Homo sapiens: one gene and its partners. The protein of the gene in region 1 purifies or fractionates together with the protein of each later gene. This does not show direct contact. Each region holds a gene or a part of one and is shown in the gene's direction. Other genes may lie near its edges.

What was found.
Region 2: the proteins of PCSK9 (region 1) and AGK purify together in Homo sapiens (affinity purification with mass spectrometry, with the first as the bait; one study listed by BioGRID). This does not show direct contact.
Region 3: the proteins of PCSK9 (region 1) and TUBB6 purify together in Homo sapiens (affinity purification with mass spectrometry, with the first as the bait; one study listed by BioGRID). This does not show direct contact.

Annotation. Positions count from the first base shown.
Region 1 is NC_000001.11:55,059,897-55,063,547, forward strand, and holds part of PCSK9 (proprotein convertase subtilisin/kexin type 9 isoform 1 preproprotein), read left to right. Parts: intron 1-1,368; exon of another isoform or gene 1,369-1,478; coding exon 1,479-1,660; intron 1,661-3,472; coding exon 3,473-3,651.
Region 2 is NC_000007.14:141,613,910-141,617,560, forward strand, and holds part of AGK (acylglycerol kinase, mitochondrial isoform 1 precursor), read left to right. Parts: intron 1-236; coding exon 237-269; intron 270-1,561; coding exon 1,562-1,656; intron 1,657-3,651. UniProt on the Homo sapiens protein: Lipid kinase that can phosphorylate both monoacylglycerol and diacylglycerol to form lysophosphatidic acid (LPA) and phosphatidic acid (PA), respectively. Does not phosphorylate sphingosine. Phosphorylates ceramide.
Region 3 is NC_000018.10:12,318,225-12,321,875, forward strand, and holds part of TUBB6 (tubulin beta-6 chain), read left to right. Parts: intron 1-2,311; exon of another isoform or gene 2,312-2,438; coding exon of another isoform or gene 2,439-2,520; intron 2,521-3,651. UniProt on the Homo sapiens protein: Tubulin is the major constituent of microtubules, a cylinder consisting of laterally associated linear protofilaments composed of alpha- and beta-tubulin heterodimers.

The DNA of each region.
Region 1 (3,651 bases):
GTTGCAAGGAGATGGGCAGCATCTAGGGCACTGGCCTGGAGTATCGCAGGTGCTTTGCCTAAGGTGGTGCAGTCCAGGAGAGGCAGCTCCAGAGAGAGGCCCCCGGCTGGGGCTGAAAGGAGGGCAGACCTCGGTTTGAATTTCACCCTGCCGCTCTATAGCTGTGTGACTTGGGCAAATTACTTAACATCTCTGTATGAGGAAATGATGAGTGCTAAGCACTTAGCTTAGTGCCGGGACAATATAAATTCTAGCTATCGTTACTATTGTTTTCATCACCCGTTGCTTTAAAATCCAGCCTCTGGTATAGGCAACTATTGACGGGCTACCCTGTGTCGAAAACATGCCCAGGCAGGTAGCAGGAAGTCACAGATGGGGACCTCTTGGGGCATCAAGGGATGGTGCCCTGAGGCTGAGCTGTTCTGGTTGGGTGGAGCATGAGAGGTCTGGGAAGACAGTGGGACTCCAGCCTGGAATAAGAGGCTCAGAGTTGATTCTCGTCTGAGCACGTCCAGGGGAACCACTGAGGGTTTGGGAACAGGAGAGTGAGGGTGAGAACCTGGTTCTGGGCACAGCAGGCTGGCATGTAGGATGGATGTTCAGGAAAGATGAGCATAGTCAGGTGGCTGGTGCCCTTGTCCAGGGGAGAGGCTCCGTCAGGTTCAGGGGTCCTGGCTTGGAGGGAAGTCCGCCATGCTCTAATCACGCTCCCCTTTGGAAGTGCTCAGCCGATGAGCTCACAGGCACATGTCAGTTTGAAGTCATGGAATCTGACTCCATGAAGCGCACCTCAAAGAGCACCATTTTGCAGCTAAGGGAACTGCAGGCTGGACATGCTGAGTGGCTGCCCCGAGCCCTTGCAGCTAGGACATAGAGAATGCTAGTAACCACAACCCTACCATGTTCAGAGCACATGCCAGGCTCCATGCTGGGGCTTCGCACGTGTCATCTTCACAGTGTCCCTGTGAGTAGGTGTGGTTTCTCTTTCCATCTTACAAATGAGTAAACAGAGCCTCAGTGTAGCTAAGTAACCACTATTTTAGGTTTCTTAGCCAATGGGTGTGTCTGACTCCTAAGCCCATGGAGGGCATTCTGAGGTGGTTCAGACAGACCCCGGCTTACCCTTGAACTTCTGCCTGCTGGCTGCATAGGGAGGGGCTGGGGGGAGTTTGAGCATCTCAGGCCATAGAGCCCCTGCCTCACTGTCTCCATCTCTGGGTGGAAAGATGGTGTTTTCCCTGAGAAACTAAGGCTCAGAGAGGTTGAATGGCTCTCCCAAGGTCACACAGCTGGTCAGCTGCAGAGTTGAGAACACAGGAGTCCTGGTGCTCAGGCCAGCATCTCTTTTTTTCTTTGAGTTGTTTCTAGGTTTCCTAGCTCTTGCCTCAGACCTTAAAGAGAGAGGGTCTGATGGGGATGGGCACTGGAGACGGAGCATCCCAGCATTTCACATCTGAGCTGGCTTTCCTCTGCCCCAGGCTGCAGCTCCCACTGGGAGGTGGAGGACCTTGGCACCCACAAGCCGCCTGTGCTGAGGCCACGAGGTCAGCCCAACCAGTGCGTGGGCCACAGGGAGGCCAGCATCCACGCTTCCTGCTGCCATGCCCCAGGTCTGGAATGCAAAGTCAAGGAGCATGGAATCCCGGCCCCTCAGGAGCAGGTGAAGAGGCCCGTGAGGCCGGGTGGGTGGGGTGCTGCGTGTCTCTCCTGCACAGCTTTTCTGTGTCAGTTTGTGCCACCACCATACCGCCATGCATCAGGGTGGCGGTTTGCCAGGTAGATGCTGTGGGCAGCTTCCGCCATTGTGTGGACAGCATGTATATGTGTCTCTGTGTGGCTGGGTCTGTTTTTGCTTTTGTCCAGATCAGTAAGGTTTGCTACCTGGGTACCCCACTCCACTTGGAGTAGAATGTGCATAAATATGGCATAAAGAAATGCAATATGCATGCATTTATTGATTGATCTATTTTTTTCTGAGATGGGGTCTTGCTGTGTTGCCCAGGCTGGTCTCAAATTCCTGGGCTCAAGCAATCCTCTGGTCTCAGCCTCCCCAAGTGTTGGGATTATAGGCATGAGCCGCTGCACCTGGCCTCTCTGATCTATTTAACAAACCTGCTGGGAGGGTCTCAGGGTCAGGAGCAGCACTGGGCTCTGAGGACACAGAGCTCACTCAGCCGTGACCCAGAGGGGGTGCCTGAGCTGCATGCTGAAGGTTGTTAGCATGACCAGCAAGGCAAGAAAAGGCCCTGCCGAGATTAGCAAGGCATGTGCCAAGCCCTGGAATGTGACAGCCGGGCCTTCTAGAAACCTGAGTGTATAACTCTCCTTAAAAGCCAGTAGGAGCTCCTCAAAAGGCAGCCCTAAGGAGTCCACTCTTAAATGAACTCAGAGTCAGTTTTAAAATGCAAGTCTGTGTTGATTCTGGTCTGGATGGTGCATTCCTCGAGAGCAAAAGACAGTCTTGGTCTTGGATCCACTTGCCCTGGGTACACTGAGGGCTGCTAGGTTCCAGGTGCTCTTCCTGGCACTGGGGAGGGATACAGGCCCAAGAGACATGCTGTTCTCCCTCCTGGAGCATCTATTTTAGTGGAGGAAGACAGAAAACAAACCATTAATATAGAGTACTGAAAAGATGCGATGGAGAAAACTATAGCAAGGAAGGGAATGGGGTGGGAGAGAGGTCAGGAGAGGTCTCGCTGACAAGGTGGACGAAACAGGCCATGAGGCAGAGAACATGTTCCAGGCAAAGCAAAGGCCCCCAGGTGGGGATGTGCAGGGAGTACCAGGAAACCAGAGAGGTGGGAATAGTTATGAGATGGGGGGTGCCTCAGAGGGGACAGGGCCAAGTCAGGTGAGACCTGAGGGTCACAGTCAGCAGTGAGCTGGGGCCATGCAGGGGTCTGGCCTCAGAGGAGTGTGGTCTGGCCTGGATCTGAACCTCTCACTGTGGCCTAGCTGCTGAGCTGAGAAGAGATGACAAGGACCTTGGGCAGAAGCAGGGAGACTGGAGGGAGGCGGTGGAGGGTCCAGGCGTTGGGGCGGGGCTCAGGCTGGAGTCTGAAGGGAGCCTGCAGGCCTGGTGGGTGGATGTGGGTGGGAGAGGGGGAGGATGGCACCAAGGCTCGGGCCCCTGGACAGATGGAGTTGCCATTAAGTGGGATGGGGCAGGCTATGGGGCCATCAGTTTCAGAGGGATGAGTTTGGCACTGGCATGGTAGGCATCTGTCTATCTCCACGGCCCTCAAACCAGGCATGAAGCAGGAGCTCACGTGTTTGGTCAGCCATGGTGCAGAACCGCCTGGGTGGGAGGTGCGGGGTGGGAGATACACGGTTGTGTCCCAAATGGGCTCTGAGCCAGCGAGGGCCGTCTGCACTTTGGCCTCACAGAAGGATGTCGGAGGGAGAAATGAAGTGTGGGTGGGGGTCCCGGGCCACGCTAGACATGTGCTTTCTTTTCCTCGGGCTCTGGCAGGTGACCGTGGCCTGCGAGGAGGGCTGGACCCTGACTGGCTGCAGTGCCCTCCCTGGGACCTCCCACGTCCTGGGGGCCTACGCCGTAGACAACACGTGTGTAGTCAGGAGCCGGGACGTCAGCACTACAGGCAGCACCAGCGAAGGGGCCGTGACAGCCGTTGCCATCTGCTGCCGGAG
Region 2 (3,651 bases), on another chromosome or scaffold:
ATAATTATTTTATCTTAGCCTTTATTGTATTATTGATCATAGGTCAAAAATAAAATCTAATTTAGCTCTGATTCTATTGGAGAATACTATATGTTTTAAGATCCAGTGCATCTTTTAACAGAGCTTCTAAGAAGAAAACAGGAGTAAGTTTATGGTCTATGAAAATTGAATCCAATTCTTTTATTGTAAAGGAAATACATATTATTTATAACAATGTTTTATTATTACATTTGTAGGTTGTTACTGGTGTTCTTCGACGAACAGATGAGGTGAGCATTAAAGAGTAATTGCATTTTAACTTTTATTTTTCTGTTCTTTTTTATTGCTTTTCTTTCTTTTACTTTTTTTTTCCATTGTATATTTTAAAACGGGTACAAATTGTGCTTTCTTGAATTTTAGAAAAGAAAATACTGCTACCCATGTCATAGAACACGTATATTAACACATGGGGACTTTTCTGGTTTGGTAATTGATGGTATCCAATAACTTTGACAATGGTTATTTAAAATTTTGTTATGGAATCTTTTTTTCAAAGAACTTTTTCATAAAAGAAATTGTGGCATATTCATATAGTGGGAATCATCTAACAGTTAAAATGAATGAACTAAATGTATAAATATCTACATGGCTAAATCTCAAAAGTTTTGAATAAAAAAAAAAGCAGGTTGCCCAGGTATGTTATGCATTTCTACAGTGTTTTAAAATTCAGAAAACAATACTATGTATGGTTAATGGATGCTTAAATATGTAGCAAAAGAATAATAATGTGGATGAAAAGGAATCACACCAACCTCAGGATAATGGTCTCCTCTGGGAAGGGAGAGAGGAGAATAGTTTTAGAAGGGACTTTCATTGTATCTCTATCGTTTTATTTCTTGAAACATATGAAGCAAAAAGGTAAATGTTAACATTTGTTAAATATAGGTTGTGGGCACATGGGTGTTTTTGTAACATTATTTTATGCACTTTTCTACAATAGCTAGAAGATCCTTCTCAGTCCCTTTGGTAATAGTACATTGTGCTCAGAATTGTTTTGAACCTTACAGTATCTATTGTATGTGTGGCATTTAATTAACTGCTATGCCAGTACCATCTATTATTTGAACTTGTTTATTCTCTTTGCCTTATTTGTACTTAAGATAGTTTATAAAGCACCTTCACCTGTCATTGGTCACTGTATAAATGGTAGACATTTTTAGTTGAATTTTATCTGCAACTTTATCAAATAGTGTGACAATGTTATACAGTCTCTGTTGCACTAGTGCATTGATATATTATCTTCAAAACCCTCATTATCTTAACCAAATTTCTTTCAAACAGTTGTCATTAATGAGTACTAAAATATTTCTTCCAAATTCTGAGTCATTTTGTTTTCATTGACTGCCTTGTTTTAGAAATTACCCACCTAGCTTTATTTGATTACTGGTCTAAGGATGTGGAAAGGAGATGGGGAGGCAGATACAGGGTCAGTTATTTGTCATAGTGGACACACCTGTGCTTCTCCATTAAGCCTGATTTTCTGATCATAACAATAAAACTTTCCTCTTCTTTCCCCCCCCAGGCTACCTTCAGTAAGATTCCCATTGGATTTATCCCACTGGGAGAGACCAGTAGTTTGAGTCATACCCTCTTTGCCGAAAGTGGAAACAAAGTCCAGTAGGTTGTCAATGTGGGGAATTAGCATTTGTGGGTGAGCGAGACTGGGAATGAAAAATTTATGTGTATGCTATAACTTTCTTGAGTTTTGATAGCCTGAAACTTCAAATAATTAAGAGGAGGACCTAGATCAGAGTTCAGCCTTTCAGTTCATTGGGAAGTCTCCCAACTTGGTTGTGGGACTCTTATAATAAGTCTCCAGGTCAGGTAGGGAGGTGAATACTTGATGTCCTTTTGTCAGTTATGAAGATAATATCCCTGACCTAAACCGTTTTTGTGCTTGTACATTGTAAGATTCTTTAGTGAAGACATATTTGTGCTGCTCATTTGTTTGCTTTAAGTATATGCAATGACAAATAACAAGTCCCTTGTGAAGACTGAACTAGTAGCCTGGCTTCATTATCTTGATATTAAAAATAGCTAAAACAAGTAAATATAGCCACATCCTTTTGGGAATACTTAAAGTGGTAGACAGTGTAGACAAAGTAGACTGGGAAAGCAGTGTAGCTCTGACATCTAAATTAAATTGCTGTGAGTCTCACAGTGTTTTTGGGAGTCAAGCAAATTGTTGTTATTATTGTTCTTTTTTGCTTGAAGGCATTATGTAAACAAAGCTCTGCTCTTTCAAGAAGATAGGAATCTTGAATTTGAGCTTTGACAGTGATTAATAACATCATTTTGAGCAAATAGTTGTCAAGAAGACCCAAATAAATGGAGAGATAGCTGAGAGATCAGTTGCCTGATGGTTAACGTAAGCTTTGTGACACATTGGAGGAAGTCAATAAATAAATATTTGTTGCATGATTTAATGAAAATTTTCTCATGATTTTTCTGGTTATAATCTTCTAGAATAAATAATAATAATACCCAAGTGATTTTCTGTTTTGGTTAAGGATTTTTTTTTCTGCTTTGGAATTCTTTGATTAGGCTGGCTTTTGTGAATTTATTTTTGCTATTGTAATGTTAGGAGTCAACTGTATCTCTTTTAACAATTCTATATTTTAATAAGCATCTTAGTCCAGTTTTCAAAACACTAGGCATACACACATATATATATGTCAGATCTTCATTCAAACTTCTTTTATATTTCAAACCTTAATATAATGGGGATTATTCAGCTATTCATTAGCCATCCTGAGGGCCTAACTACAGGAGAGGCCATTTCAGTTGGCCATCCTTTTTTTTTCTTTTTCTTTCTTTTTTTTTTTTTTGAGACAGAGTCTCGCTCTGTAGCCCAGGCTGGAGTGCAGTGGCGCGAACTCGGCTCACTGCAAGCTCCGTCTCCCAGGTTCACGCCATTCTCTTGCCTCAGCCTCCGAGTAGCTGGGACTACAGGCGCCCGCCACCACGCCCGGCTAATTTTTTGTATTTTTAGTACAGATGGGGTTTCACTGTGTTAGCCAGGATGGTCTCGATCTCCTGACCTCGTGATCCGCCCGCCTCGGCCTCCCAAAGTCAGTTGGCCATACTTTTTATTCCCGGTTTAGAATTTCTGAGGGGCAGTAGATAATGACAGTTAATTGCTCACATTTTTGCTTTTCCAAGATGAATCCTGTCTGATTCAGGTGTTGGTTACATTAGAGAGCTTGTCTTCTCCTTGTGTCAGTGTAGATTTTTTGAATTGCTTTAGCCAGTATTCCAAATAGCATATGTCATTGATCCAAGGGTAGACCATTTTCCTTGGAGACCCCTTGCCTGTCCAAAAGCTAATTTACACAGAGTGTGGCAACCCCCAGGGTCTGAGAGAGTCTTCAGTTTGGGGGAACTGATTTTCTCTTGTAGTTAAACTACTACTGTTGCTGCTGCTATTTATAGTTTAAAAATTTATAAAACTTAATTTATAAGCATGCCCCAGGGCTGTTAGGTAATCCAGGAAGTCTGTCCTGAGTTCAGAGTTCTGTAGGCCTCATAAAATGGCAGAAGCCTAAGGCTATTTAAAAAGAACAAGGCTTTGCTTTTTGCACTGCTGTCAAGATTTGTTGTACCATAGTTACC
Region 3 (3,651 bases), on another chromosome or scaffold:
TGTTGTAGTTTTGCCAGGTGCTGCCTGCTAGGTTGGGTGGGGAAGGGGTGGAGAGAAGTTGGTGGGGGCTTAGGAAGGACGGTGACCATTTTCTCGCCTACTAAGAGAAGGCAGTCAGCTAGGATTCACTGTGCAACACAGCTGGGCAGGAAGAAGAGAATCCCCTGTTTGTAAGAGAACAGTCACATACTAGATGCTGTCTACGGCTTGTGAAAAACACAAGGAAACGGCCACCTGAGAGTACTAAAGTGGCCAGGCCCACGGGGTGTGCTGCAAGCACACAGCAGGCATCTGCCTAGCCCGGCCCCTCTGCAGAGCCATAGGGCCTGCCATGCCAGTGACACTGGGCTTTGGACTGCCAAATGGGGCAAAGACAATAGGAGAGAAAGGCTGAGCTGATTTCTCAGTGGGACTGAGACGGAGATCTAGGGAGGCTGATGCTGCAGACAAGTGCAAGGGCCCTCTGTGGTCAGTTTCAGCTGGCCAGTTCTGCTCTCTGGAAACTTCAGTGTTCAATATTTAAATGTGTGGTTTTGTTTGTTTGTTTGTTTGAGATGGGGTCTCGCCTTGTCACCCAGGCTGGAGTGCAGTGGTGTGATCATAGCTCACTGTAGCCTCAAACTCCTGGGCTCAAGCAGTCCTCCCACTTCACCCTCCTGTGCTAGGATTGCAGGTGTGAGCTCCCATAGCTGGTCTTATACAAAAAAAAGTGTTTAATGTTTTCATGTCAAAGTTAAAACAAAGTGCTTGTACATGGTTTTTTCAAACAGTACACATAGATTGTGTATACAGTGCAGAAAGGGAAAGCTGTCATCCCTTCTACTGGTGGCCCCTGAGGTTTTATTCCCTAGGGGGATAACCGAGTGTGTAGACAGTTGTGCTGTGTCCTGCTGACATTTTTCCTTTTTCCTTTTTTTTTTTTTTCTTTTTTTTTTTGAGACGGAGTTTCGCTCTTGTTGCCCAGGCTGGAGTGCAATGGCGCAATCTCGGCTCACTGCAACCTCCACCTCCTGGGTTCAAGCAATTCTCCTGCCTCAGCCTCTGGAGTAGCTGGGATTACAGGCACCTGCCACCACACCCAGCTAATTTTTTGTATTTTTAGTAGAGATGGGGTTTCCCCATATTGGCCAGGCTGGTCTCGAACTCCTGACCTCAGGTGATCCTCCTGTCTCGGCCTCCCAAAAGTACTGGGATTACAGGTGTGAGCCACCGCGCCCGGCCCTGCTGACATTTTTCTGTGTCCATGTGCACCTAGGTGAGCACACAGAGCTGATTTTGTCTGGGGAAAATGGGATCCTGCTATACACACCATTTTGCAGCCTTTTGAAAAATTCATTAATGTATCTCAGACATCCTCCGTGACAGTCACAGTGCCTACCATTGTATATGTCATCATTTAGTAATTTCCCACTTACTGATGACATTTTAAAATTTTTCATTAAAGAAGAGCTGGGCTCAGGCGTTCACACCTGCCATCCCAGCACTTTGGGAGGCCAAGACAGGATGATCACTTGAGTTCAAAAGTTTAAGACCAACATGGACAACATAAGGGGACCCTCTCTACAAAATTTTTCTTTTTTTTGACGGAGTCTCACTCTGTCGCCCAGGGTGGAGTGCAGTGGTGCGATCTTAGCTCATTGCAAGCTCCACCTCCCGGGTTCACGCCATTCTCCTGCCTCAGCCTCCGGAGTAGCTGGGACTACAGGCGCCCGCCACCATGCCATGCTAATTTTTTTTATATTTTTGGTAGAGACGGGGTTTCACCATGTTAGCGAGGATGGTCTCAATCTCCTGACCTCGTGATCCACCCGCCTCGGCCTCCCAAAGTGCTAAGATTACAAGCGTGAGCCACCGTGCCCAGCCAAAAAAATGTTTTTTTAATTGTCCCAGCTACTCAGGAGGCTGAGGCAGGAGGATCCCTTGAGCCCAGGAGTTGGAGGCTGCAGTGGCTATGATTGCACCACTGCACTCCAGCCTGGGTAGCAGTGGAAGACCCCATTTCTAAAATAATAATAATAAAAAATTCCTTTTTTATACTTTAATATTCACTTATCATAAAATAAATGTTTTAGTTAAAATGTCATAAAGCTAGAAATGAACTCTCTTAGGACCCCATCCTTCAAAGACAACCTGTGCTTTCTTAATTGCATTGTAAATGTTTTAATAAAGTAATTTTTTTTTTCATTTTGCTAGCTAGCTAGGTAAAACATTTTCATGGTTTAGGACTTAAAAGGAACAAAAGGGTATATAGTGAAAAGTTGATCTCCTTCCTACCCCGAACTAGTGTTAAGATTCTTGAATGTCCTTTCAGGTATGTTCAGGCAGACGCATATATTTACACACATACAATGGAGCCAGCTGTATACACTGTTTAGTACCCTAGTGTTCCTCCCTGGCTCCCCAGCAACGTATTTTGAAGATCTTTCCATTTCACAAGTATGGCTGCCTCATTCCTGTTGATGGCTGATAGTATCCTCTGCAGAGATACCGCCGTGGATTTAACCAGTCTTCAGTTGATAGGTATTTGGGTTGTTCCCCTTTTTATTATTATAAATTGTTCCTCAGTAAACATTTGTATATATGTCATTTTGCACATGTATGGGTCTATCTAGAAAAACTTACAGAAGTGTAATTGCTGTGTCTAGGGGGATAATTTTGATAGCTGTAGCTCAGCTGTTCTACAGCCCACTGCCCTTGCTATCTCCAGTAGCTCCCGTGGGAAGTGGCCTTCCCCAAACCCTCAGCAGTGCAACTCAGGTGTTTGGATCTCTGTCAGTTTCACAGCAGAAAAATAGAATCTCCTTGTTTTAATTTGCGTTTCCCTTATGAGAAGGGTTTAGCATTATTTCCAGTACCTAAGCTATTGGAATTTCCTTTCCTGTGAGCTGTATGTTTATAGCCTTTGCCTGTTTTCCTAATGGCTGTTGTTTTTCTTACTGATTTAAGGACTTCTTTAGATATTGAAGGAGGGTATCCTTTATATGTGATATGAGTTATTAACAGTCCAGTACATACATTTTAACATTAAGTTCAGTACACTTAATGAAGAATCACAGAATTTGTTTTTTCTTGCACTGAACACCTACAGTGTGTAGCACTGATAAATGCTTCATCCCCCCCAAGAGTAGAGCCACTGTGTAAGGCTGCACTTGTTATGTACTGCAGAAGCCAGGGGTGCCATCAGTAGACCTCATTGTGAGCAGGCCCGTGTCCCAAATTGCATGGGAGCCCCTTGTCCACTAATTAAAGATTGACAAGTGAAAGGCAGCTTGCTTACCCGATGTAGCACTTGGCAGCTCTCAGAGGCAGCCTTGGTGGTTTCACTGCTTCATAGTTCAGTGCCCCCAGGGTGAGTGCAGCATCAGGGATGGACCTGCCCACGTGAAACCAGAGAGGCTGGTCTTTGGCAGTGGCTGTGAATTGTTGCCACCAGCCGTGTGTAGACAAAAGTCAAGTTGGAGTAAGTGGGGAGAGGTCTGTATAATGCAATGCAAGTTTTTATGACTTGAATTAGTTAAATCTGCAGCCCAAAATTTCATGAAAATAAATATTTAAAACATTTTATTAAAAATTAAATTGACAAAGTCATATTAGAAATTAGTATTTCAATTTTCCCAACTCTAAGTATACTGGAATAAATTGCCTTAAAGT